Linked DNA regions of Homo sapiens: region 2 is linked to region 1. A link means that fine-mapping ties the variant in region 1 to the expression of a gene that starts in the linked region. Tissue or cell type: whole blood. Region 1 holds a variant in brackets; the other region holds the start of a gene. All regions are shown on one strand. Distances are between the middles of the regions.

Region 1 (8,259 bases):
GCTGGGTCAAAACCCAGGCTGGTCTGATGTCAAAACACTTGCTCCGTCCAAGTCACCCAGATGCCCAGTTCATGGTCCACCCCACCACCCAATAATGGCAAAACCTCTTGGGGGCTCTCAATATGTACAAACAGTAGATGACTGCATGGTCCCAAATTCCTCCCTCCTCTATGCTCCAGCAATACCGTCCTGTGCAGGCACCGTGTGTGGCCTGGGTTCTGCCCGGACTGTCACTCACACCGGTAGGGGCAGTCCTGGTTTATCTCAGGGTCCCCGTGCCCAGGCTGAGACCTGGCACCAAGGGGCTGGCAAATGCTTGTTGAGTGAATGCACGCTGCCTGTGGCCTTGTGCCGCCTCCTGCACCAACCCCGCCAGATGCCCAGTGCCCACCTGCTCCAGGCCACTGCTGTTCAGGAAGAGGTGCTGCAGCGACCTGCCCACAGGCTGGAAGGCTCCGTCACGCAAGGCCCTGAGTGGGTTGCCCGAGAGCTGCAGCTCCAGGAGGGCAGGCAGCCCCTCCAAGGCCCCAGTGGGCACCTCTCGCAGCTGATTCCTGTCCAGGTGCAGCTTCTCCAGCTCCCGAGCTGGGCCCAGCGCCCCAAGGGACACTTCGGTGATGCGGTTTCCACTCAGGTAGACCCAGCGCAAGGCCCGTGTTCTCCCCAGGTCCCCAGGTGCCAGGCGGTCCACAGCGTTGTCCTGCAGGTGCAGGGAGAAGAGGCTGGGCAGGGCGCGCAGGGCAGCCCCTGGCACCTGCAGGAAACGGTTGCGTTCTAGGTACAGGTAGCCGAGGCGGGGAGCCCCTTCAAGGGCAGCAGCGCTGAGGCCTGCGAGCTGGTTGTCGGAGAGGTACAGGTAGATCAGGCGGCCCAGCCCGGCCAGGGCGCCCGCTTCCAGCTCCGCGATGCCGCAGTGCTGCAGGTGCAGCGACACCAGGTGGCCCAGGCCGGGGAAGGCCGCTCGGGGCACCGAGGGGAAGTGGTTCCGCCTCAGGTCCAGGAGCTGGGTGTCGCTGGGGAAGCCGCGGGGCACCGCCTGCAGGCCGCAGCCCTCGCAGCTGCTGTGCCGGGACTCGGGGACGCACACGCAGGCGCGAGGGCAAGGCGCGACTGCCCGCTCCTCCCCGGGGCCGCGCGGAGGGCCGCGCGGAGGGGCGCGGGGCCCGGCCACAGCCCGCTCTTCCAGCTCTTCCTCTTCCTGCGCCGCGTCCCCAGGGCAGCGCAGGTCCCAGGGCCGCAGGGCGTCCAGAGCCTCGCCCCGCAGGCGCCGCGGCCCCTGGCACGCGCCGTCCGAGCGCACGCGCGCCCGCGCCAGCCACTCGAGTAGGGGCCGCGCCTGGCAGCCGCACCACAGCGGATTCCCCTGCAGCCGCAGCCGGCGCAGCTGGCCCGGGCCCTGCAGCGGGGGCAGGGTGTCTAGCTGGTTCCCGCGGAGGTCGAGGGTGTGCAGGCGCGGACAGTGTGCGAAGGCCCTGGGACCCAGGGCCTGCAGGGCCCCGCCGTCCAGCAGCAGCTCCCGCAGGCCGGGCAGCGCCAGCCCGTCCTCCTCGCCCGCGTAGGTGAGCGGGTTGTGGCCCAGCTCCAGACGGGCCAGGCCGCGGGCCTGGGACAAGACAGGCCCGGGCAGAGCCTGGAGCTCGTTGTGGTGTAGGCTGAGCCGTCTCAGGGCGGGCAGGCCAGCCAGGGCCTCGGGGGCCAGCACGCTGAGCGCGTTGTGCGACAGCCGCAGCCAGCGGACGCGCAGTAGCCCCTGGAAGGCCATGGCGGGCAGGTAAACCAGGGCGTTGTGGGCCAGGTTTAGCGTGGCCAGCGCACCCAGTGCCCCGAACGTCCCCGGCCGCAGCTCCTCCAGTGCGTTCCCCTCCAGCTCCAGCCGCCGCAACGAGCCCAGCCCGTCCAGCGCCTCCTGGGGCAGCTCACGCAGGTGGTTGGAGGCCAGGTTGAGCAGGAGCAGGCGGCCCAGGCCACGGAAGGCGCCCTCGGCCACCAGCTCCACCTCGCAGTGGCGCAGGTCCAGGTGTGTGAGGTGAGGCACGCCCTGGAAGGCGGCTGCGGGGATCACCTTCAGCAAATTGCCCTGCAGGTCCAGCCGCTGGGTCAGCTGGGGACAGCGAGGAGAAAGTGGGGCTGAGCCAGGCAGGGACCCCGCCTTTGCAAGTGCTGCTTCTTCCCCGGAACACTCTTTTCTCCTGTCACCTTTCCCATATTTCTCTTCATCCGACCCCTGACACCTCCTCCAGGAAGCCTTCCTCTCCAGTGCCCTGGGCATCACCCACTGTGGCATTTTTCACACTGTGCTGTCCCTGCCTCCTCGCTCTCTCTCCTCCACTAGCTGATGACTCTGCAGAGCAGAGACCACACCTCACCCTGCCACAGCCCGCCTCTCCACCACAGGGTCTGCAGTGAATTCAGTATCGATCTATGGGTCACCTACTTATTCCATTCACACAGTAAGGATTTTAAATAGATCATCTCCCTGTTACTGGTTTTTATTATTCCCATTTTACAGAAGTGTAAACTGAGGCTCAAAGAGAAGTAATTTGCCAAGGTCTCCCGGGCAGGCGGTGGCAGATCAACTGGTGCCCAGCCCAGGCTCCTCCCTCTGGGTCCCCACCTTGCCCCACTGCCACTCTGTGCCTGTGCTCCTGCCCTGCTGACCTCAGGGATGGCGTCTGGCACCTCAGTGAGGTTCTGGTACCGGCAGGCAACGTGTCGCCTGGAGTTGTCACAGATGCAGGCCTGTGGGCAGCGCTGGGCGGCGGCCTGCCTAGCCGGGGCCAGCAGCAGAAGTACAAGAAGCGGCAGCACCAAGGGGACATGGGTGGAGCTCCGGGGCCTGGGACGGGGAGGGAGAGTCTGTTGTGCACAAGGGCCGAGGCCACATGCTGTCCCTCACTTAGTCCCAGCCATGGTGCAGCTCCTGCCCCAAAAACCCCTCAGAGCCTCCTCCTTTGGGCCCAGGAAAGTGCCAATCACCCTGAGCCTCCCTGCCCCCCACCCCCCACGCAGTGGAGGTCCTATGATTAGTCCTGTTTTACATGGGAGGAAACCGAGGCTCAGAAAAGTGACCTGGTTAGTCCCTTTGCCTCTGCCCAATGGCTCAGTGAGGACTTGCTGACTGTGAGAATGACTCCAGTTCAGAGCATGTTCTCAGGCTGTGGTGAGGCTCTGGTCCAGGGTAGGCTCGGAAGCAGCCTGTCCTCAGACTGATATGATGCCAGCTCCCAGGTGGCAGGAGCATAATGGTACCCCCCAGAAAGGAGGGAGGCATCCAGTCCGGGTCCTTGAGTCTTTTTTTGTTTGTTTGTTTAAA[T/G]AGAGACAAGCCTTGCTCTGTTGCCCAGGCTGGAGTCTGGAGTGCAGTGGAATGACTATGGCTTACTGCAGCCTTCACCTCCTGGGCTAAAGTGATCCTCTCACCTCAGCCTCTTGAGTAGCTGGGACTACAGGCACACACCACCACGCCTGGCTAATTTTTTAATTACTTCTGGTAGAGACAGGGTCTCGCTATGTTGCCCGGGCTGGTCTTGAACTCCTGGCCTCAAGTGATTGTCCCACCTTGGCCTCCCAAAGCGCTAGGATGATAGATCACCTCCCCTGCCCAGCTGGCCCCTCTGTTCTCAGCCTGTGTCAGGCATGGCCTCTCCCCCATCGCTGGGCTGTTCCCCGGCCCCCAGGAGCCTCCCCCTCGCTGCTCACTGGACTATCGTCTGTTTTGGAGTCTCCTTTGGGTCCCAGGCTCCAGCCCCTGCGTTGGAGTTGGTGGCTTCTCCAGAGCCTGTGGTGAAGGCTGTGCCTCAGGGCAGGCCAGGGAGGGGACCCATGGGGACAGATCGCTGAAGCGACAAGCATTCATAATGCAGGGACCACTGCTGGGCTCTCAGACAAGCCCCAGAGGACCAGTTCCTGGCAGTGGCCACATTGCCACGTGTCTCAGAGCCCACCTTGGGAGACCCCCTTCCTGGAGAACCCCAGGAAGTCCCCAGAGCCCCTGCCCGCCAGCCTCTGAGAGGCCCAGAGGGGGCAGAGACTTACCTGAGGCCACTGAGCTGCTCTGAATCCCCCCTTGCACCATCGGGCCCAAAGACTCACCCCTCCATGCCGCCTGGAACTGCTGGTCCAGCCTGGAGGCGCAGCGCAGGGACAGGCTGTCCCCGCCTGGCAGGAGCCCCCCTCCACGGCCCGCAGGCCTGGCAGCTGGGACAGGGCTGAATGGGAGGCATTGTCGGCAGACCAGGCAAGCCAGGCTTCCCCAGGCTGAGGTGAAGAAGGGGCGGGCGGCGGGCGGGAGCAGCGGCTGGAGTTACAGGGCCTCCTGCCTGCCCCAGCCGAGGACTGAGGCCCCGGCCTGAATCCTTGGGCCAGCCCGACAGGGAGGGGGCACCAGCAGCTGGCCCGGGAGTCAGCAGTCCTGGGCTCCCTCCTGCCATGTGGGCTGCCCTCCCAGAGGCTGCTTCCTAGTCTCTGAAAAACACATCCCATTAATAAGTAGCTCTGAGGTCACAGTGGGGGTTCAGGCCCGCACCTGGCACACAGTGGGTGCTTCAGAACAGGTGACCCTTTCCTTCCGTTTGTGCTTACACATTGACATAAATAGTTTAATACTGGACACACAGGATTCTAGACACTCATTTTTTTCACTTAACCTCAGATTACTGGGAGTTATCCAAATTGACTCTTCCGAATCTCATTATTCTGTGGTATATAGTATTCCATTGTGTAAATGTATCACATTGACTTAGCCATTCATCTTGGACATTGGCTACCTCCAATTTTTTGCTATTTACAAACAATATTGCAAAGAATATCCAAATACGCATCTTCCCAAGCTCGTGTTTGTTTTTTAAATAATACATCCAGACCATGGCCAATGTTCATGTATCTTGATTTTTCAGATTCCTGCTTCTGATGGAATTGCATCTTCTACTGTTTGTTCCTTTAATTGGAAACAGGGGTCAGGCACAGTGGCTCATGCCTGTAATCCCAGCACTTTGGGAGGCTGAGGTGGGAGGATCACTTGAGCCCAGGAGTTTGAGACCAGCCTGGGCAACACAGACTCTGTCTCAAGAGAAAAAAAAAAGGCCGGGCGCGGTGGCTCACGCCTGTAATCCCAGCACTTTGGGAGGCGGAGGCGGGTGGATCACGAGGTCGAGATCAAGACCATCCTGGCTAACACAGTGAAACCCTATCTCTACTAAAAGTACAAAAAATTAGCCGGGTGTGGTGGCAGGCGCCTGTAGTCCCAGCTACTTGGGAGGCTGAGGCAGGCAAATGGCATGAACGCGAGAGCCGAGATGGCGCCACTGCACTCTAGCCTGGGCAACAGAGTGAAACTGTCTCAAAAAAGAAAAAAAATATATACATATATATATATATATATATATATATATATATATATATATATATATATATGTATGTGTGTGTGTATACACTTATGTGTGTATATATTTATATATAATAAAAATATAAATGTATATGTTTATATATATTTATATATGTTAAACAATGAACATCTGTGTGTACTTTTCCTAGACTGCAGGAGTTTTTTGTTTTTTGAGACAGAGTCTCACTTTATCGCCCAGGCTGGAGCTCACTGCAACCTCCACCTCCCTGGTTCATGCGATTCTCCTGCCTCAGCTTCCCAAGTAGCTGGGATGACAGATGTGTACCACCACATCTGGTTAATTTTTGCATTTTTAGTAGAGACGGGGTTTCGCCATGTTGGCCAGGCCGGTCCCGAACTCCTGACCTCAAGTGATCTGCCCGCCTTGATCTCCCAAAGTGCTGGGATTACAGGCATGAGTCACCACGCCCAGCCCTGCAGTAACATTTTAAAAAAAGAAATAGTGCCATGCCACACAGCCATCTGCTTTGTGCTTTTTTTGCTTGGCAAATTCCAATCAATGGAACTTCAGTGTGCTCTTTCGTCCTTTTTTTGAGACAGGGTCTCACTGTTGCCCAGGTGTGAGTGAAGTGTGATCATGGCTCACTGCGGCCTTGACATACCAGCCTCCCAAGCAGCTGGGACCTCCAGATATGCACCGCCACCTCCAGCTGGTTTTAAAATTTGTTGTAGAGTTGGGGTCTTGCTATGTTGTCCAGGCTGGTCTTGAACTCCGGGGCACAAGTGATCCTCCCACCTCGGCCTCCCAAAGCGTTAGGATTACAGGCATGAGCCACTGCACCTGGCTGTGTCTGGCGTTTTCCACTCAATATTATGTTAGTGAGAATCATCTTTTTATTTTTTTTTTGAGACGGAGTCTAGCTCTCGTTGCCCAGGCTAGAGTACAGTGGCGTGATCTCAGCTCACTGCAACCTCCGCCTCCCAGGTTCAAGGAATTCTGCTTCAGCTTCCCGAGTAGCTGGGATTACAGGCACCCGCCACCACACCCAGCTAATTTTTGTATTTTTAGTAGAGACGGGTCTCACCATATTGGCCAGGCAGGTCACAAACTCCTGACCTCAAGTGATCCGCCCGCCTCAACCTCCCAAAGTCCTAGGATTTACAGGTGTGAGCCCGCACCCGGCTTCATCTATTTTAATTTTTTTTTTAAATTCAGCATTCCAGCCTTCCATTCTATAAATATATGACAACAGTGGCATGGGGCAGGGGCGGGAGGCAGTCTGCCCACAATGCAGGCAGTAAGCGGGTGTGCTGTCAGTGGAGAAGTGAGACACAATGGAACTGACTTAAAGTTGGTCTCTGCTTTTTATTATCATGTGCTGACAAGTCTAAACAATGTCAATGCTAAAATATTTCTTCTTGGGCAGACCATTCCTACCTTCTCGGTACCACACCGTACCACAAGTAGCTTACCCATTCCTCTAGTGATAGACATTTGGGTTGTTTCCAGCATGGGTTTATTAGAAAGAGCACTGTAGCCGGGCATGGTGGTTCATGCCTGTTAAGTGAGCTGAGGCGGGAGGATCACTTGAGCCCAATAATTCAAGACCAGCCTGGACAACACAATGAGACCCTGTCTTTACAAAAAAAAGCTGAACGTGGTGGCTTGTGACATGGTCCCAGCTACTTGGGAGGCTGAGGCACGAAGACTAAGTGAGCCCAGGAGGTCGAGGCTGCAGTGAGCTGTGATCACACCACTGCACCCCAGCCTGGGTGACATGGCAAGACCCTGTCTCAAAAAAAAAAAAAAAAAAAAAAAAGGTTGTACCAATTTACACATCTGCCAGCCACTCCAGTTGCCCCAAATCCTCACCAAACTTGGTACTGTATTTTGTATTTTAGCCATTCTAGTGAGGGCATAAGAGTGTCACACTGTGATTATGTTTCTCTGGGAGGATCACCTGAGCCCGGGGGGTAGAGGCTGCAGTGAGCCGAGATAGAAGCTGGGCAACATGAGACCCTGTTTGAAAAAAATTAAAGTTATCCCCCCCACCCATATATATATACAGAGAGAGTTTAGGCAATTATTTTCTCCCTGTCTGTAAGTTGCCTTTGTACTCCTTAATGAGTATTTTGATAAACAGAAACCTGTTCTCACTGCTACATCATTTCCATTGTGTGAACATCCCACGATAATGGCAAAGGAGGTTAAATACAGCTTAATTTATTCATCTTTTCCTCACTCCTAAGGCCTTGAAGATACTCACTTACACTATCTCCTACAAGCTCTCTCTCTCTTTTTTGAGACAGGGTCTCGCTGTCAGTCATGCTGGAGTGCAGTGGCACGATCACGGCTTGCTGCAGCATCCACTTCTTGGGCTCAGGTGATCCTCCCACCTCAGGTTCCCAAGTAGCTGAGACTACAGGCATGCATCACCACACCCAGCTCATTTTTGTATTTTTAGTAGAGACAGGGTTTTGCCATGTTGGCCAGGCCAGTCTTGAATTCCTGGGCTCAAGTGATCTGCCCGCCTCGTCCTCCCAAAGTGCTAGGATTACTACAGGCGTGAGCCACCACACCCGGGTGAAGCTCTATAGTTTTGCTTAATTTTTAAAACATTAACTGAGGTAAAATATATTAATACATGAAATCTATCATTTTAACCATTTTTATGTGTACAATTCAGTGCATTAAGTACATTCACAATGTTATGCAACCATCACCACTCTCCATTTCCAGAACATCTTCATCATCCCAGAGAATCTGTTTGCAGCCTCACTCCCTATTCCACCCTTCCCCTAGCCCTGGCAACCTCTACCTTCTTGTCTCTGAATTTGCTTATTCTAGATGCCTCATCTAAATGGAATCATATTTGTCCTTTTGTGTCTGGCTTATTTCATTTAACATGTTTTCAAAG
Region 2 (8,000 bases), 150 kb before region 1:
TGCCTGTAATCCCAGCTACCAGGGAGGCTGAGGCGGAAGAATCACTTAAACCTGGGAGGCAGAGGTTGCAGTGAGCGGAGATCATGCCACTGCACTACAGCTTGGGTGACAGAGCAAGGCTCTGTCTCAAAAAAACAAGAAAACAAACAAACAAAAACAGGCCGGGTGCAGTGGCTCACGCCTGTCATCCCAGCACTTTGGGAGGCCAAGGCGGGCAGATCACGAGGTCAACAGATCTAAACCATCCTGACCAAAATGGTGAAACCCCATCTCTACTAAAAATACAAAAATTAGCTGGATGTGGTGGCGCACACCTGTAGTCCCAGCTACTCGGGAGGCTGAGGCAGGAGAATCACTTGAACCCAGGAGGCAGAGGTTGCAGTGAGCTGAGATGGCGCCATTGCACTCCAACCTGGCAACAGAGCCAGACTCCGTCTCAAAAAAAAAAACAAAAAAAAAAAACTGGGCAAGCAATCTCCCACCAGGAAATGACAGAGCAAGTTTCCAGGTGTCCTCCACATTTCTCATTTCTTTGCTTTGTTTTTTAAAATATTTATTTATTTATTTTAAGAGACAGGATCTCTCACTCTATTGCCCAGGCTGTAGTGCAGTGGCATGATTACACCTCACTGCAGCCTCGACTTCCCAGGCTGAAGTGATTCTCCCATTTCAGTATCTGGAGTAGCTGGACTACAGGTGCTGTGTACACCACCGCGCCTAAGTAATTTTTTTTTTTTAACTTTTGTAGAGATGGGGAATAGGGGGGTCTCTTTATGTTTGCTGGGCTCAAGCGATCCTCCCACCCTCGTCTCCTGAAACGTTGGGATTACAGGCATGAGACACTGTGCCCGACCAACATTCTTTCCTTTGTACTCCTTAGTCTGAATATGGGTATAAACTATTAAAAATAACAAAATTATCCCTGAAGGCCAATCTTGATCTCACTCCTACACATTGAATTCATCCTGTAACAACTTTAAGATAAAGAAGTTCTGTCCTTTTCAATTTGCCTGCTTTTTTTTTTTTTTTGAGACGGAGTCTCGCTCTTTCGCCCAGGCCAGAGTGCAGTGGCGCGATCTCGGCTCACTGCAAGCTCCACCTCCCGGGTTCACGCCATTCTCCTGCCTCAGCCTCCCGAGTAGCTGGGACTACAGGTGCCCGCCACCGTGCCCGGCTAATTTTTTGTATTTTTAGTAGAGACGGGGTTTCACCGTGTTAACCAGGATGGTCTCGATCTCCTGACCTCGTGATCCGCCCGCCTTGGCCTCCCAAAGTGCTGGGATTACAGGCGTGAGCCACCGCACCTGGCCTTTTTTTTTTTTTTTGAGACAGAGTCTCGCTCTGTCGCACAGGCTGGAGTGCAGTGGGCGATCTCTGCTCACTGCAGGCTCTGCCTCCCAGGTTCACGCCATTCTCCTGCCTCAGCCTCCCGAGTAGCTAGGACTACAGGTGCCCGCCACCACGCCCAGCTAATTTTTTTGTGTGTGTTTTTAGTAGAGACGGGGTTTCACCGTGTTGGCCAGGATGGTCTCAATCTCCTGACCTCCTGATCCGCCCTCCTCGGCCTCCCAAAGTGCTGGGATTACAAGCGTGAGCCACCACGCCCGGTTCAATTTGCCTGCTTTTCTACTGCAGTTTGGGTGATCTAGGCCTGATCATTAGAGGACAGATTCCATCCCTGTCAGCAACTTCAATTGCTCCATTAGGATCTTCACTCTTATGTTCTTATTTATTCATCCCAACATTAATTTAAAAAACAAACAGAAACAATATAAAAAAAAAAACAAAGAAAATCCAACAATTTGCAAATACCAGCTACGGAGCATGAGATATGAAATAAAAGAAAAAAAATTTTTTTTTCTTTGGGACAGAGTTTTGCTCTTGTCGCCCAGGCTGGAGTGCAATGGCACAATCTCAGCTCACTGCAACCTCCGCTTCCCGGGTTTAAGAGATTCTCCTACCTCAGCCTCCCAAGTAGCTAGGATTACAGGCGTGCACCACCACACCCGGACAAGTTTTGTATTTTTAGTAGAAACGGGGTTTCACCATGTTGGCCAGGCTTGTCTCGAACTCCTGACCTCAGGTGATCCACTGGCCTCGGCCTCACAAAGTGCTGGGATTACAGGCGTGAGCCACCGTGCCTGGCCGAGAAAAAGCTTTTAACCGTATCAGTAGATACTGGTTTCGGGGTTTCTTTCGGGGTCACTTACACCCCTGCCACCTCCTCCAGTACCAATTTACCCATGGCCAAACACAGGGTGATGTGTAGGAACCTGAAAGCACGTCTCCGACCTCAGCTGCAAAACTGTGGAGTCCCACACACTAGACTTTATATTCCAGCATTTCCTCTCACCATTACATTTTTGCTTTTTTCCATCCTTACATTACCTTTACCACATTTTTGTTTTTCCCATAATTACATTAGATAAGGCAATGGCTAGACGTGGTCTTTTACTAACTTGTTCTATTGGGAGCGGACGAGAAAAAAAAAAAAGACAAACCCTAGAAATGTCTTCAGGTCCCAGCCATGTTTAGGAAAATACTTGAAGGCTTCTGCGGTGAGAGTGCTACCTGGTAAGGGCGTATGGACACACGTGGAGGGCAAGAAATGAATTTGGGTCTGGTGCCGAAACATCTTTCCACTGCTGTGATTTTGTTTTCTGGTCAGAGTAATAATGCTCGTTGTAAAATAAATAAATAAATAATACATAAAAAGGAAAAGGAAAATTCAGAGAAAATGAAAACAACTCGTAATCAACGTGCTTTTTGGATGTGAACTGCTCCCTTTGGGAGGGCAATGGAGAAGTGAGGACGCACTGGGTATCTGGCCCGGAACAGCCGGCAGTGGGTACACCCTGCCTGGTGAATTCGACCGGGGTTTTGGGGGACCCGCCACCCAAGGGCCGAAGAGCAGGGCCGCCCTACGGGCGCTCCCATTTGGCCACCTGAGTGGCGACTTGGCGCCTTCCTCGGAGCAGCTCCGGGGTTCCGTCGTCCCGGTTCCCACTGGTCCCTTACGCAGAGACCAAAGGCAGGAACCTTCCCTCGTAACTATCCACCGACTGAAAATAGATTCTGAGTCCGCCCCCGCCCCTCCCCCCTTAAAATCCTCCCCACTCTTAAAATCCTCCCCTTTAAAGGGAGCCACAGGGTGACGCCGGGGGAGTTTGCGGAAGCGCTAACCGCGTTGGGGCCTAGGGCGGATCCCGTGATTGGGACAGGCCCCGCCCCCGGCTCCACTTCCCCCATTGTGTGAGCGGCTCGGGCCTAGGCCCCGCCCCCCTCCGGAGGCCCGGCCACTCCCCTTTTCCACCCCCCCTTGGCTCATTTCCGGCCGCCGCCGCTACCGCTAGCCTGTAAGGAGGATTCGGCAGAGGGAAGAAACAACAGCCGCCATCTTGTTTGTGTGCTAGGCTGGGGGGGAGAGAGGGCGAGAGAGAGCGGGCGAGAGTGGGCAAGCAGGACGCCGGGCTGAGTGCTAACTGCGGGAGCCAGAGAGTGCGGAGGGGAGTCGGGTCGGAGAGAGGCGGCAGGGGCCGAGACAGTGGCAGGGGGCCCGGGGCGCACGGGCTGAGGCGACCCCCAGCCCCCTCCCGTCCGCACACACCCCCACCGCGGTCCAGCAGCCGGGCCGGCGTCGACGCCTAGGGGGGACCATTACATAACCCCGCGCCCCGCGGCGTCTTCTCCCGCCGCCGCGGGCGGCCCCGAACGGAGCCCCGGGGGGCGGGCGCTCCCAGCACCTGGCCGCCGGCGGTGGGGGCCGTAGCAGCGGCCGTATTTATTTATTTTCCGCGGGAAAGGAAGGCGAAGGAGGGGAGCGCGGCGCGAGGAGGGGCCGCCTGCGCCGCCGCCGGAGCGGGGCCTCCTCGGTGGGCTCCGCGTCGGCGCGGGCGTGCGGGCGGCGCTGCTCGGCCCGGCCCCCTCGGCCCTCTGGTCCGGCCAGCTCCGCTCCCGGCGTCCTTGCCGCGCCTCCGCCGGCCGCCGCGCGATGTGAGGCGGCGGCGCCAGCCTGGCTCTCGGCTCGGGCGAGTTCTCTGCGGCCATTAGGGGCCGGTGCGGCGGCGGCGGCGCGGAGCGCGGCGGCAGGAGGAGGGTTCGGAGGGTGGGGGCGCAGGCCCGGGAGGGGGCACCGGGAGGAGGTGAGTGTCTCTTGTCGCCTCCTCCTCTCCCCCCTTTTCGCCCCCGCCTCCTTGTGGCGATGAGAAGGAGGAGGACAGCGCCGAGGAGGAAGAGGTTGATGGCGGCGGCGGAGCTCCGAGAGACCTCGGCTGGGCAGGGGCCGGCCGTGGCGGGCCGGGGACTGCGCCTCTAGAGCCGCGAGTTCTCGGGAATTCGCCGCAGCGGACGCGCTCGGCGAATTTGTGCTCTTGTGCCCTCCTCCGGGCTTGGGCCCAGGCCCGGCCCCTCGCACTTGCCCTTACCTTTTCTATCGAGTCCGCATCCCTCTCCAGCCACTGCGACCCGGCGAAGAGAAAAAGGAACTTCCCCCACCCCCTCGGGTGCCGTCGGAGCCCCCCAGCCCACCCCTGGGTGCGGCGCGGGGACCCCGGGCCGAAGAAGAGATTTCCTGAGGATTCTGGTTTTCCTCGCTTGTATCTCCGAAAGAATTAAAAATGGCCGAGAATGTGGTGGAACCGGGGCCGCCTTCAGCCAAGCGGCCTAAACTCTCATCTCCGGCCCTCTCGGCGTCCGCCAGCGATGGCACAGGTTAGTTTCGGCAGCCCCGGCCTTCCACGTTCCCTTTAATCTTTTCTACTCGGTGCGCCTTTATTCTTCCATTTTTTTTTTCTTCCTCTCTCTCTAGTTCCCTGCCCCTTAATTAATTTTAAAGGTATTTGAATGAGCTGGTCGAAGACGTCCAGTAGCCCAACCATTTTCTTTGCCTCCTAATACATTGATTGCAACACTATGTCATATCGGTGTGTGTTCTGGAATTAGAGCTCGTAAGTGGGTGCTATATAGAAATGGCCTGTATTGTTGCTCTCATGCAATTTAATTTGGGAAATGCCAATGCATTTGTGTGTAAGAGCTCCTATGCAATTTAAGTTTCATTTTTTTTGTTCTTGGCAAATGAATTTCGAATCCTTTCTCTTTACTGTACTTACTGTGTTTCCTCTACTTTCCACTCTTCGAAATTTTCTCTCCTTTGCAGAATATTTTCTGTTGAGGAATAGGGTGTAAAAAAATCTTGATTTTGTGTGTGCGAGGTCCAAGATTTCAGGTTAGAGGTGAAGTTTAACAATTCTTTTATCTTACCTACCATTCTTAGCTTTTTTTTCCTTTTTCTTCTTATTTGCTTTAAGAATCAATATGGAGCGCAGTTCATTTCACATCTCCCAGTTCTTTGGTGTGAGACCAAAATGTCTGAAACTCTGGGTTTTTAGGTTGGGAGAACAGGGGCATGTTCTTTGCAGTTTGCAGTCACTTTCTCATTTTAGGGGAAATAAGATAAACAATTTTGTGGAGTTACGTACCTGGAAATCAAGGTTAGAAGTTGAAAGAGTTCCAATCATGAACTACAAACGTGAACTGATTGTACAAAAGTTTAAAATGTGCATTAGGTTTGGTGTTTGTGTGTGTCTTTGTCTTTTTACACTTTTAAACATACTTGGAGATCAAGATTTTCGTTTAAAAGCTTTACGACCAGTTCATTCAGTTGTGGACTAGCTCCTTTGTCAGGAGAAGTTCAGGGAGACTTCTTCCATCATCCCTTCATTCTTTTCTTACAGTTAGTTTAATGGTGTTATCCTGATGGGTAAGGACCTTTTCTTTGCTGGGATAATGAAGATGAAGAATGGCTGGCCATCTGACAGTCCACAAGATGTTCCCCTTTACTACGGAGCATCTCTTTAACTCCCTGAGAGCAGGCTCAGCGTCATCCCTCCATCTGCCAGTGAGAGTGCATAATGGAGTTAAATGTACCCTTTGAGTTTGTAGAGAACTTCGAGAGCATGTTTCTAAATAGGCTTCATTTCAGAGGGTGAAAATGGGAAGACAGAGCTAATGCTTTGAATTCGTTGCTTTTATAAGAAAGATGTGAAATGAATTTAAGTTAACCTGCAAAAATTGAGAAGTAGGAATCTTGCGAGTTCCTCTACCTAAGGCTTGTAACATTGATTATGCATGAACTTTGATCTGTACCTATTCTATGAAGGTACTGTAGTCTCCAGGGATTTTTTTAGCTGGTTTTTTCCTTCAGAATTCATACACATACACAAACGTCGTTGTATTCCTTTGCACCTACTAAAGTGCCATTCAGAAACATTTTTTAGATCATCTTTAGAGACTTAATCACCTGTAGATTTTTGTGGTGTTTCTTTCGTATTTGTGTAATGTGGTAGTTTTTGCTTTTTAGTTTTGGTGTAACGTGGTAGTCGATTTTACATTGGAGTTAGCCAGTGACTTGGAACGTAGGGGAAACTTTTTTGTGTACTTTGAGTAGTCCTGATTTGAGCAGTTTCGTCTTGGAGCTGTATTGTTTAAATACTTCTGTTCAGGTGTGCTACTACTTTCTCCATGTCGGTCTGTTTTGCTACTTGAAATATCTTTGAATAATTACAAGAGTTTTAAATGTGTTAAGTGGGCTTTTATAGTTTAAAAAAAAACTCAACATTGAGATTAATTCATTCACTCATAATGCTAAGAGTTTATCTTAGTTACTTTTCTAAATTTTGTAATGAGGGTTAACTTTACCCCCCTCCCCAAATCAAGATTCTACTCCAGGAATTCTTTGGTGTACGGTTTTTAATTGTAACCAGTCTGGGTTTGGGGGAGGGGAGAAGTGAGTATAAAGAAAATACTGTCCCTCTGTTAACTTACTTCAAGTTGGGTACCATTGTAATTTTTTTTTTTTTTTTTTTTTTTTTGAGATGGAGTCTCATTCTGTCACCCAGGCTGGAGTGCAGTGGTGCGATCTCACTACAACCTCTGCCTCCTGGGTTAAAGCAGTTCTGTCTCAGCCTCCCTAGTAGCTAGGACTACAGGCGCAGACCACCACGCCTGGCTGATTTTTGTATTTTTAGTTGAGACAGGATTTCACCATATTGGTCAGGCTGGTCTCGATCTCCTGCCCTCAAGTGATCCACCCACCTTGGCCTCCCGAAGTGCTGGGGTTACAGGTATGAGCCGCCCGGCCAGAGGTACCATTATATCTTGAATTTTTTTTTTTTGACATTCTGCAGTTTGTAATATGTTTGCAGGTAACTTTTATTGGAGGCACATCACCTCTTAAAACTTTTAAGTTTCAAACTTGTAACTTTTGATTTTTGAGTTGTCACTTGGGTATTTTATAAATGTGAAAGAAAATTATTTCTTGATATTATGGTTTTTGTCTAGAACTGGTTGAAATAAGCCCGAAATTCTAGCACCTAAAACTTTTTTAAAAAAAGTGATTTAGGCTTGCAAATTTCGTGATGTAAATATATCCACCAAGAGCGTTCTAATGTCAGCTTTAAAGGAAAGAAAACTGGAATCCAATGGGATGACATGCTAAAGTGTTACAAATCAAATTATTACTTAAATCTCAACCTCTGAATTGCTGTTTAATACTCAGATATTCTCCTAAAAAATTTCCAGGTTGATTCAAATAACTTAGGTTAAACTCAACTTTTACGTGTTGGGATGGGGAAGAGAAGACTTATTTGTAGCCTTCACACCTTTATGTTCCTGTTTCAGTATTTGCATTTGATCCATTGAAATTTTTATTTCATTTGGTATGGTTAGGGTAAAACAAATCATTTGAGAAATGACATTTTGTTCTCCCTCTCCCTCCAAAAAAAAAAGATTATGAAAGCCACTTGTAAACTTTTTTTGTAAAAATGACCAAAAGACTGGAAAAGTTAATGTTAGGCAAATCCTGGAAATATCTTTTGGAGCTGTTTCTGATCATCTTGAGTGATGGAAATGATGAGGGTCATCTGTTGTCTTCATTACTCAGTGAACACGTTTTGTCACTGCTTGGTAAACGCTTAATGCCGTATGCACTTAAAAAGCACCTG

What was found. PIP is the estimated chance that this variant, and not a neighbour inherited with it, causes the effect.
Region 2: it holds the start of EP300, and the variant in region 1 is fine-mapped to the expression of EP300 in whole blood (TOPMed, PIP 0.97).

What each region holds. Positions count from the first base shown.
Region 1 is chr22:41,236,785-41,245,043 of GRCh38, forward strand. CHADL (chondroadherin like) reads right to left here and starts at 4,147. Exons shown (of 6, transcript NM_138481.2): 1 at 4,090-4,147; 2 at 2,659-2,836; 3 at 392-2,101. The coding sequence starts at 4,097. RANGAP1 (Ran GTPase activating protein 1) reads right to left here. Exons shown (of 16, transcript NM_002883.4): 16 at 7,995-8,259. RefSeq lists enhancers at 1-534, 535-1,123, 1,124-1,712, 1,713-2,300, 3,750-4,250 and 1 more and silencers at 898-997, 1,058-1,437. The variant T/G (reference allele first, on the strand shown) is at 3,314.
Region 2 is chr22:41,088,389-41,096,388 of GRCh38, forward strand. EP300 (EP300 lysine acetyltransferase) reads left to right here and starts at 4,204. Exons shown (of 31, transcript NM_001429.4): 1 at 4,204-4,710. The coding sequence starts at 4,617. MIR1281 (microRNA 1281) reads left to right here and starts at 4,125; the gene lies at 4,125-4,178. RefSeq lists silencers at 3,105-3,394, 3,495-4,264, 4,445-4,544 and an enhancer at 4,655-4,894.